Homo sapiens: one gene and its partner. The protein of the gene in region 1 purifies or fractionates together with the protein of each later gene. This does not show direct contact. Each region holds a gene or a part of one and is shown on either strand. Other genes may lie near its edges. The genes, in order: PHETA2 and INPP5B.

What was found.
Region 2: the proteins of PHETA2 (region 1) and INPP5B purify together in Homo sapiens (affinity purification with mass spectrometry; 2 studies listed by BioGRID and IntAct, with this or other methods). This does not show direct contact.

The regions. Positions count from the first base shown.
Region 1 is NC_000022.11:42,076,959-42,079,938, forward strand, and holds the end of PHETA2 (sesquipedalian-2), read left to right. Parts: intron 1-321; 5' UTR 322-335; coding exon 336-1,115; 3' UTR 1,116-2,480; downstream 2,481-2,980. Other genes in the region: SMDT1 (essential MCU regulator, mitochondrial precursor), read left to right, coding at 2,811-2,980. UniProt on the Homo sapiens protein: Plays a role in endocytic trafficking. Required for receptor recycling from endosomes, both to the trans-Golgi network and the plasma membrane.
Region 2 is NC_000001.11:37,944,006-37,951,634, reverse strand, and holds the start of INPP5B (type II inositol 1,4,5-trisphosphate 5-phosphatase isoform 1 precursor), read left to right. Parts: upstream 1-4,581; 5' UTR 4,582-4,645; intron 4,646-4,765; exon of another isoform or gene 4,766-4,855; coding exon of another isoform or gene 4,856-4,861; intron 4,862-5,300; coding exon of another isoform or gene 5,301-5,326; coding exon 5,327-5,383; intron 5,384-5,784; coding exon 5,785-5,879; exon of another isoform or gene 5,880-5,983; intron 5,984-6,007; exon of another isoform or gene 6,008-6,356; intron 6,357-7,629. UniProt on the Homo sapiens protein: Hydrolyzes phosphatidylinositol 4,5-bisphosphate (PtIns(4,5)P2) and the signaling molecule phosphatidylinositol 1,4,5-trisphosphate (PtIns(1,4,5)P3), and thereby modulates cellular signaling events.

The DNA of each region.
Region 1 (2,980 bases):
CAGCTGGGGCCTGTTTCTTTGGATTTTAGAAAGCCGTGCCCAGGTCCTGCCATGCCTCCTGTCTGATGCAATCTCGTTATTCTTTTCTCGAAGTCCGCCAGTGTCCAGTTTTTTTTGCATGATCCTCACGACATCCCTTTGAGAGAAAAGGAAGGAAAGACGAGCCCACTTCTCAGGAGACTTTAGGGACCTTAGGGACACAGCAAGCGAGTAGGAGTCCCAGGGCTGGGGTCCAGGTTGCCTCTGGAGCCGGTGCTGTTCCCCAGGAGGGCACGGAACCACCTCCCTCTCTGATCTGCTGCCATCTCTCTTGCCTCACAGTTCCCGTGGGAGCCATGAAGCTGAACGAGAGGAGTGTAGCCCACTATGCACTCAGCGACTCCCCAGCGGACCACATGGGCTTCCTGCGCACCTGGGGGGGCCCAGGGACCCCACCGACCCCCAGTGGCACTGGCCGAAGATGCTGGTTTGTCCTCAAGGGCAACCTGCTATTCTCCTTTGAGAGTCGCGAGGGCCGGGCCCCACTGAGCCTGGTGGTGCTGGAAGGCTGCACAGTGGAACTGGCCGAGGCTCCCGTGCCCGAGGAGTTTGCCTTTGCCATCTGCTTTGATGCCCCTGGAGTGCGCCCACACCTGCTGGCCGCAGAAGGGCCGGCGGCCCAGGAGGCCTGGGTGAAGGTGCTGTCCCGGGCAAGCTTTGGCTACATGCGCCTGGTGGTACGCGAGTTGGAGAGCCAGTTGCAGGACGCACGCCAGAGCCTGGCTTTGCAACGCCGCTCATCCTGGAAGTCTGTTGCCAGCCGCTGTAAGCCCCAGGCTCCTAACCACCGAGCTGCGGGCCTGGAGAATGGCCACTGCCTCTCCAAGGACAGCAGCCCTGTGGGCTTGGTTGAAGAAGCGGGCAGCAGGTCTGCAGGGTGGGGGTTGGCTGAGTGGGAGCTGCAGGGCCCTGCCAGCCTCCTCCTAGGCAAGGGGCAGAGCCCTGTGTCCCCTGAGACCTCCTGCTTCTCTACCCTGCATGACTGGTATGGCCAGGAGATCGTGGAGCTGCGGCAGTGTTGGCAGAAGAGGGCCCAGGGGAGCCACTCAAAATGTGAGGAACAGGATAGGCCCTAAGTCTGGGCCCTTTGAGTCAGGAAACCAGGGCCAGTTCTTTTTCAGGAGTTAAATGTTTACCCATTTCCAAGGTTGCGTTTTGGGAGGGGACATGGGTTCTCTCCTTCCTGCTATTTAGGCATTCTCCAGGTTCGAGATCCACCCGTGTGTCTGGAAGGGACTGCGGGACCATTCCTTCCATCCTCTTTATTTCCTGAGGTCCAGAGAAGGAAGGAGACTTAGCAGCCACAGAGCAAGACCCCAATCTCCTGACTGCACTGGCCTGACTGCCCCCTCCCAGGGGATGTTAATGAAATGAAGGAAGTGGGGAATGTCACCCGAGACTGTCACAGGCTTGCCATACCTTTGGCCTACACACCGGGCTCTAGAGCCATAATTTCCAACCTGGGGAGTCTCCTGTGCACTTAAATCCGAGGTAGGCTGCAGTATCGGCTTGAAGCTCTGACACTGTCAGAGAAAGTGGATTTATTGTGTCATAGGAGTTTCTGGGACCCAGCTCTTCCTGAGAGGGGTGGGAAGATTGGGGATGGGATCCTCACTCAGCAGTCTGGGTAGGGCCCTTTGAGGCAGAGGGTCTTCGGCCAGTGAAGAGAGATTTATTCTGCTCAGAGTGCTGGGGTCCCATCCTTTCTCCCTGGCTGCCCTGTTAACAGATGGTGCTGGACCTTGCCCCGGAAGGGGCTTGTAGCTTTTTTACGTCAACGAAATGCCCTCCTGTACTCTGTCTTCAGCAGCCAACTCCTGGAGCTGCCAAGTGAGGGGTTAAAGAAGAGGTGGGGAGGCAGTGTGGCTCCCTGGGAAAAGTCTGTTGCTTTGGTTCTCAGTCCTGGGTATTCTAGGAGCTTGGACACGGGATTGCGTTTCCTGTGCTAAAATTCTCTCTCCTGGCTGGGCTCCGGTAAACTGAAGCTGCTCGAGAAATCACCTGGGAACTCTCATAGCCGTTTGTCACCCAGGGTGTACTTGCCAGGACCTCTCCTTGCTACTCTTCCCAAAGTCGGGAGGCAAAGCGGCTGGGTCACCAGAGCCTGACCATACTGACGCTCCAGGGGGAAGACGCAGAGGCCGGGAAGAGACACCCCCTCCCAAACACATAAAACTTGCCCCTTCCTAGCCTCGGCTCCCCTCACTGGGGCCTTGGGCAGGACCGACCCGCATCCAACTAGGCCTAAGGGGTAGGCTCTGAGCCTCTTACCCCTAAGAGGCGGAGATGCGCCCAAGGCGGGCGCCCGGCCTGTTCCCCAGCCCTGCCTGGAAGCCCCGCAGCCACTGCATTTTGTTTAAACACAGATAGCACGGGCCTTTCTCTTATTGCTACAGTGTTTTGTACACGGTTAAAACACTAGTAAAGCTTTTTCGTTATTACTCCTTCCGCTCCCTGGGTTTATTTCCACAACCGGCCGCTGAGGCCTGTTCTGACGGCCGGGCGGACCCAAGACCGCGGCCACGCCCAGCAGGACGCGGACTGAGGGAGCCGGGGCTGCGCCGCCACTCTCGTGACGCCACCATGCCGGCCAGTGACAAACACCTCCCTCCCGCCGCCCCAGGAGCCGCCGGCACTGCGCGAGTGGGAGGGCTGGGCTTCTCGTGTACTCCTCAAACTCTCGCGAGGCTTCGGGCGGCTTTCTTCCCGAGGGCGGCACGAGGGCTGGGCGGTGGGGTGCGGGTGCCCGGGTGAGGGGCGGAGCTGGGGGCATGGCGTCCGGAGCGGCTCGCTGGCTAGTATTGGCACCCGTCAGGTCCGGGGCTCTCCGGAGCGGGCCTAGCTTGAGGAAAGATGGCGATGTCTCCGCCGCATGGAGCGGCTCAGGCCGGAGCCTGGTACCGTCGAGGTCAGTCATCGTTACCCGCAGCGGCGCCATTTT
Region 2 (7,629 bases), on another chromosome or scaffold:
AGACCACAGAGTGTTAGCCCGGGCAGCACCACTGCGAGGTGTGGGGCTGGGGCTGTGAGGGACCCAAGCCAGGGTACTTCTCAGAGGTGAAGGAGAGTGGAGGGAGGCCATTGGAAGGGGGATTGACATTCAGGTACAGTAAGGTGCAGGAACAGATCCTGAAGCGGGAGGGAGAGGAGTCAGTATCTGGGATGCTGGGAACGTGGAGCTATGGCCCAGGCCTGGCTGTGCCCCCATCCTCCTGGACATGCCTGCATTCTCTCTACCCAGCTGATTCAACTCAACGCTTCCCACTACATGGCCTGGTGCAGCTTCAGCTGTGAAGGGGGAAATGAAACCGGTCCTAGCCCTTGTCTGCTGTCCAATAGCTCAGCCCCCAGCCCAGACCCCTGCAGGCTGCAGTGCTGCAATGGAGGGCCACTCTGTTTCGTGCTCAATGAGTCAGCCTGGGGTGAGACAGCCCCACCCTTAATACTCAGCCCTGCCCCGCCAACCTGCAGCTCCCAGCCCCATTCCTCAGAGCCCCCACCTCTGACTCCCATTCCTACTCATCCACAAGCTCAGAGCCCTTCTGCACACTAACCCTCAACTTTGAACCCAGCCCTTTGAGAGGCCCTCAAATCTCAGCTCAATTTTCACCAGCCCCCCCAACCTCTATGAATATGCTAACCTCTAGGCCTTTTCTGACTGACCCCTACCTTTTTTTCTTTTGTTTTTTTGAGACAGAGTCTTGCTCTGTCACCCAGGCTTATGCAGTGGCGCGATCTCGGCTCACTGCAAGCTCCGCCTCCCGGGCTCACCCAATTCTCCTGCCTCAGCCTCCCGAGTAGCTGGGACTACAGGCGCCCGCCGCCATGCCTGGCTTATTTTTTGTATTTTTTTAGTAGAGACGGGGTTTCACCATGTTAGCCAGGATGGTCTCGATCTCCTGACCTCGTGATCCACCCGCCTCGGCCTCCCAAAGTGCTGGGATAACAGGCATGAGTCACGGCGCCCGGCCCTGACCCTTACCTTTAATGTCTTCCTAGGCCAGGCATGGTGGCTCATGCCTGTAATCCCAGCACTTTGGGAGGCCAAGGCGGGTGGATCATGAGGTCAGGAGATCGAGACAGGCCAAGGCAGGTGGATCATGAGGTCAGGAGATCGAGACCATCCTGGCTAACATGGTGAAACCCCATCTCTACTAAAAATACAAAAAATTAGCCGGGCATGGTGGTGCTGGGCGCTTGTAGTCCCAGCTACTCTGTAGGCTGAGGCAGGAGAATGGCATGAACCTGGGAGGCGGAGCTTGCACTGAGCCAAGATCTCACCACTGCACTCCAGCCTGGGCGACAGAGAGAGACTCCACCTCACCACAAAAAAAAAAAACAAAAAAAAAAACTCTGCCTTCCTCATTAGCTCCCCAAGTCTGAGCTTTCTACCTTTGGTGCCCCACCCCCTCTCAGATTCCCCACTCCTAACATCCCCACCATTCCCCAGTCCAGCCCATCCAGCACTCCCCTCCCCAACAAGCTACAAAGAGGCCTGGGGCAAGCACCTGTGCTCATCTAGGCCGTGGTGGGGGAGATGTCAGGTTGTGAGCTGCCCACACACATCATGCTCTCCCTGGGGGCAAGGCAGGGGGTCAGGGCTTTACAGAGGTGTCACAGCACTTCCCCAGGCAGTCCTGCTCTGCTCCTAGGCCTAGCCCACCCGACGATCCCAGAGGACAAGCTACATTCCATTCCACCCCTGGTGACCACCACCTTGCCAGCCCTCCAGGGAAATGTGTCTCATTCTCACCTGCCTCCTCTAGGAAGTGGAGGCAGGAATGGACAGCGTGTGGTGGATGGGGCCAGTGACACAGGCATGATAGGGCTCCAGCCTTGCCTCTGTCCAGCATTTACCACCTGTTCAGTCTGCACAGAGCTCCCAAACCTCCTCCTGCTTTCTCTTCCAGAAGAAAATCTGTGCTACTTTCTCCTGCCAAGGTGGTGACTGTTTCAAAGGGCCGAAAGCTGTGGCCATGTGCCCTGAGGGCTTGGACTTCTGTGAGGTGAGCCCTGCGATGCTCCAAGAATTAGGGAGCTCTCCTCCCTCAGAGCTGCATGGCTTTCTCCTTCTACCTGGAGTGGGTAGCTCAGCAGTAGAATCTGGCTGGAGCTAGACCTGCTGGGAGCAGCCGTGGGGTCTAGCAAGCTTGACCCCCTCAGCTCTGCATGATGCCAACACCAAAGGCAGCAACTGGAATTTTCCATACCTCCACGATGTGCCCCTTTTTTTCTGACCACCCTGTATGTTCACTAGGAACTCACTGATCTTGTGGGCAGGAAGCTAGGGGTCCAAGGAGGTTGAGCTCAACCCATGACCCACTTAACACTTTCTGCCTTTGAGTGGGGAAGAGGGGCAAGGGGAAGATGAATGGTCCCACCTCTTCTTGCAGCTGAAATGCTCCAGCTCAGGTTACATTGCAGGCTGCAGCCAGGCCTGTGAAGCAGGGACCTCCCAGTGTCATGGGGCTGTGGCCCCACCCTGCTACCAGGAGTGCTGTCAAGCCTCAACCTCAGGCAGCTGCCTTCAGCTGGATGGGAAACTTCACTTCAACCAGGCAGCTCCTGGGGCCACCAGAAACCCCCTGCACTGGGCCCTGGCTGTGGCTATGCTACTTCTCCTCCACTCTGCTCTGCTCCTATTCCTGCTCCCCTAGCTGGGCCCAGCAGAATCTGGGAGCAGCAGTCAAGAAGACCCTGTAGGATCTACAAGCCTTCAGGTCCCCCTCCAGCTCTGATTCCTGTAGTTGCATCTTTAGTAAAAGGCCTTTATCAAGCCCACAGCTCTGGGCTTAAGGCTCCTCACTTCTCCCCTTCTAGGGCCTAGGCCTGACCATGGAACCCCCCAAGGGGGCAGGCCCTCAGCCCTAATCTCAGGGAGAGGATAGGGTTTGTCTGGAAAAACAGAAAACCTCCTGCCTGACCCCCACCCAGTGGGAGGACCCCCAAATCCTGCAGGGACAGTTTCTTCATCATAAAAAGCACACAGCCCCATCTACTTTGCCCAGACCCTCCTCGCCAGGCTTTGACACTAGAGCAGGGCTGGAATTGGGGTTCCTCTGCTTCCCTGCAGTGACCCCACCCCTTGATCCTAAGGGTCTGAGTCAATCCCCTTTCCCCTCATCGTCCACATGACTTAGACACTGAATTCAAATAAACTTGAGCTCCATTTGTGCTGTGGATGTTTCCAGGAAAAGAAATGGATTGAGAAGAAGGCAACGACTGTTTCTGGAAGGGGTTTACATATGCAAAGTTGAACTGGTCATTAGGATGGCCACTTCACTTGGGGAAAGAGGAAGGGAAACTGTTCACAAGTCACAACAGTCACCCCCTCCCCAGCACTGAAGGCCCATTCCTTCAGTTTGGGCCAAAGCTTGAGAGAAGGTGTATTTATTAAAATAGTTCAGAAAGTAATTCACTAACTCCATAGATAACTGTGTGCCAGAAACTGCTGGTATGTTGATGAAAAGGCATAGTCCTGTCCAACGGGAGCTTACAGCTTAATTAAACAGCCAATAGGCCAAGTGAGAATGATCCTAGCATTCCTTATCTGAGCTGGGTGAGCAATCACAGCTCACTGCAGCCTTGAACTCCTGGGCTCAAGCAATCCTCCCACCTCAGCCTCCCAAGTAGCTGGGACTACAGGCATGCACCACCATACCCGGCTAAATTTAAAAAAATTTTTTTTTAGAGATGGGGTCTCAAACTCCTGGCCTCAAGCGATCCTCCCTCCTTGGCCTTCCAAAGTGCCGGGATTACAGACATGAGCCACTGTGCCCAGTCCCTGTGCTGGCTCTTTTTGTCCATCTTGGGTAACCTCCTTATCTTAGATGGGGAAATTGAGTCCCAAGGGAAGAAAGGTCTTGGCCAAGGTCACAAAGCCAGGCGGATCAGGGGAAGGACGTTGCCGGACAGGAACAGTGTCATACCCTTTATAAAGTGCGTTCACACCCAGTAGCCTCAAACAGCCCTGTGTGGCAGGAGGGCTGGGTGGGGCTAAGGGAGGAAATAGGGCAGTGTGTAGCGGTATAAATGGCCCAGGAGTTGCAGTCAGACTTTCAGTGGAGTCCCAGTGTTGCCACCTGCTAGCTGCAGGACTTAATGTCAAACTGCTTAACCTATCCAAGGCTCAGTTTCTCCACCTGGAAAATGGACATAATGGTTCTTCATAGTCTGGTTCTCCCTCCATTAAACCAGGAGAAGGTAGTTATTTTAGGGGAAGAGTTTCAGTAGAGGTCCGGGTTGTCTACCCTGGAGTGAGAAGAGCTGAGGATGGAACTAAGGAGAAAATAAAAATGCATTATATTCTTCCCCTAAGATAAAATGTGACCATCTTCCTTCTGGGTGGGAAGCTCTGGCCCCATGACCTAGAGGGCTGGGGATGGGAGTGAGGGCAATCATTAGAAAACCTTTCTGGTATAGGAAGCCCAGTGTACCCCAGGGCCTAAGGGGTTAACACGGATGGAGAGACTCCCCACCCCACGATTGACTCGGGCATGCTGGGACTTGCAGGCTGACTGACCACCATGTGGCGCAGGGGCTGTTGGGAAATGTAGTCACTGTCCCGGAACCTGGGGCAGCGGAGTCCCGTGCGCCCTGTGGTGACAGCTCAGGAGGTAGGTGACAATGTCAGGGAGCTGTGGGTGGGAGCAGAGCAGGAAAGCCAGGGCAGGGCTGGGCAGGAGGGAGTGGGCAAGCTGAGGGCTGGGACACCCCCCAACCCCCGGCCTGCAGCTGATGCAATGGGCCTGCTGGGGCGGGGGTGAAGGGCAAGCAGCAATGGGACACTTCCTGTCTCCAAGGAAAGAGGAATGGGACCCTCCTGAATGACAGTAAGGGGATGTTCCCTGAACCCCACATGGACACACCACTGACACCTCCCAGAGAGGCGCTAGCAGAACAAAAACTGTCCCCAAAAGAGAGGAAGAGCCATGTCCTAGGAGCAAAGGGACTAGGTCCCCTTCTCCAATCCACGTACCCCACTTCCAACAAGGATAGACCACACTCAAGAGCAACTGGATGCCCTCCCAGACAAAGGCAGTATAGCAAACTGTAGATCCCAGCGGGGCAAAGGGACTGGACCCCTATCCCTAAAAACTGAAAGGCCTATTCTAGGGAGGACAAAGAGGAGGAGGAGGAGGATCAGGCCTCCCCGGTACCATCTCCCTCTGCAAAGGCCCCTCCCTCCTGCCCCCAACCCCTCTGAGGCAGCTCCACCACCCCATGCGTAACTTGTTGACCAAAGCGGGGCTCCTATCTCCCCTCCCACAGGGTGTGTGCGCTCAGCAGGGGCCAGCATGGACCAGTCTGTGGCAATCCAGGAGACGCTGGCTGAGGGGGAATACTGCGTCATCATATCCTTCCTGTGCTAACTGCGGCCCTGAGCCTGCCCTGGCCTTGGGAAGAGGAATGGAAGGTGTCGAGGTGTCTATCCCCTCTCCTGCCCCTCTGAACCATCAGGGGAGAAGGAAATCAGTATTTACTAAGTACTTACTGAGTCCTGGACTCTCAGCCAAATGCTTTAAATACGCAGTTATCCTCCTAACTCCCTATGAAGTTGGGGATTATTATCCTCATTTCATAGATAAGGAAGGCTTAGAGAGCCTGTTTGTCTGTTAGTTCAGCACATGGTTTGAGTGCTCACCCAAGGCCACACAGTGAATCTGGGGGGGCAGGGGAACAGAGGGAAGGTGGGACAGCCTGGGTGGGGAGAGGCCTCGCCTCTGGGTTGTCTTCCCTTGACTCTGAGCCGCAGGCGGTGCAAGGTGTGCTGTGTGAGGGGGACAGCCGGCAGAGCCGCCTCCTGGGACTCGTGCGCTACCGCCTGGAGCACGGCGGCCAGGAACACGCGTGAGTGAGGGGCTTGGTCCCCACCTGTCTGGGCCATGGGGTTGTTCATCACTGCACCCTCCAGCTGAACTTCAACTGTCCCTCCAGGGCAGGGTCTGAGTCTCCTAGAATAATTATCACAATGATAGTTAATATTTTTTGAACACTATATTTTAAACCCTGCACACGTACTAACTCATAATCCTCAAGATCTAAGGAGGAAGTTTCTTGAGAAGAGACAGTTTAACATACTAGTCCAGATCTTGAGCCTCGTGGTCCAAATGCCTGGGTTCAAACCCAGGCTTTGTTACTAACAAGCCACATGATCTATTGTTTGTTTGTTTTGAGAAGGAGTCTTGGTCTTTGCCCAGGCTGGAGTGCAGTGGGGTGATCTTGGCTCACTGCAACCTCTGCGTCCCAGGTCCAAGCAATTCTCGTGCTTCAGCCTCTTGAGGAGCTGGTATTACAGAGGTGCCCGCCACCATGCCTGGCTCATTTCTGTATTTTTAGTAAAGACAGGGTTTCACCACGTTGGCCAGGCTGGTCTTGAAGTCCTGACCTCAAGTTATCCACCTGCCTTGGCCTCCCAAAGTGCTAGGATTACAGGCATGAGCCAGCGTGCCCAGCCTCACATGATCTTTTTTTTAGAGACGGGGTCTCTTTCTGTCACCCAGGCTGGAGTGCAGTAGTGCACTCATAGCTGCATGCTGGAACTCCTGGCCTCAGGTCATTCTCCCACTTCAGCCTCCCAAAGTGTTGGAATTTTAGGCATGAGCCACCGCACCTGGTGGAACCACATGATCTTGAGCAAGTTGTTTTACTCCTCGATTTGTCCATATTAAAGAGTAAAGTGAGTTAGGCCAGGTGCAGTAGCTCATGCTTGTAATTCCAACACTTTGGGAGGCTGAGGCAGGAAGATTGCTTGAGCCTAGGAGTTCGAGACCAGCTTGGGCAACATAGCGAGACCGCCCCCCCTACCCCGCCCCACCTCCCGCTCCCCGGCTCCATCTCTACAAAAAATAAGAAAATTAGCTGGGTGTTGTGGTGCATGCCTGTAGTCTCAGCTACTCAGGAGGCTGAGGCGGGAGGATCACATGAGCCGAGGAGTTTGAGATTACAGTGAACTACGATTGCAGCCTGGGCAACACAGCAAGACCCTGTCTCTATAAAAAAAAAAACAAGAAAAAAAAAACGAACACCATGGGGTGTGTAGAAAGTGCTCAATAAGGCTGGGTGCAGTGGCTCATGCCTGTAATCCCAACACTTTGGGAGTCTGAGCTGGGAGGACTGCTTGAGTTCAAGACCAGCCTGGGCAATATAGTGAGACCCCTATCTCTATTTCAAATAATTTAAAAAATATAATAAATAAAAAAAAGAAAGTGCTCCATAAATGTTGTCTAGTAACACCCACATACCACACAGAAGCAGAGAGAGAGTAATAGTTGTCAAAGGTCTCATAGCTGGTAAGTGACTCAGGGTCTAGGAGCTGGGAGGGAGGGGGCCTTAGACATTTTCTGATCCATCACCCCAGTTTTACAGATGGGAAACAGGTTCAGGGAGAGAAGTGGGTAGCTAAGGTTGCACTGTTCCTGTCACACACAGTGCTAGAATGCACCATGGTTAGATCAAACATGTGTTTGTGTTTTACTAACAATCAGGGGCTCCTGCAGATGAGAAAAGTTCTGGTTTGATGACCTCATCCATAAAACTGCAGTCTCTGATGGGCACCACAGACAGAGATGGCATGAGGAGTGTGCCTAGCCAGGGCACC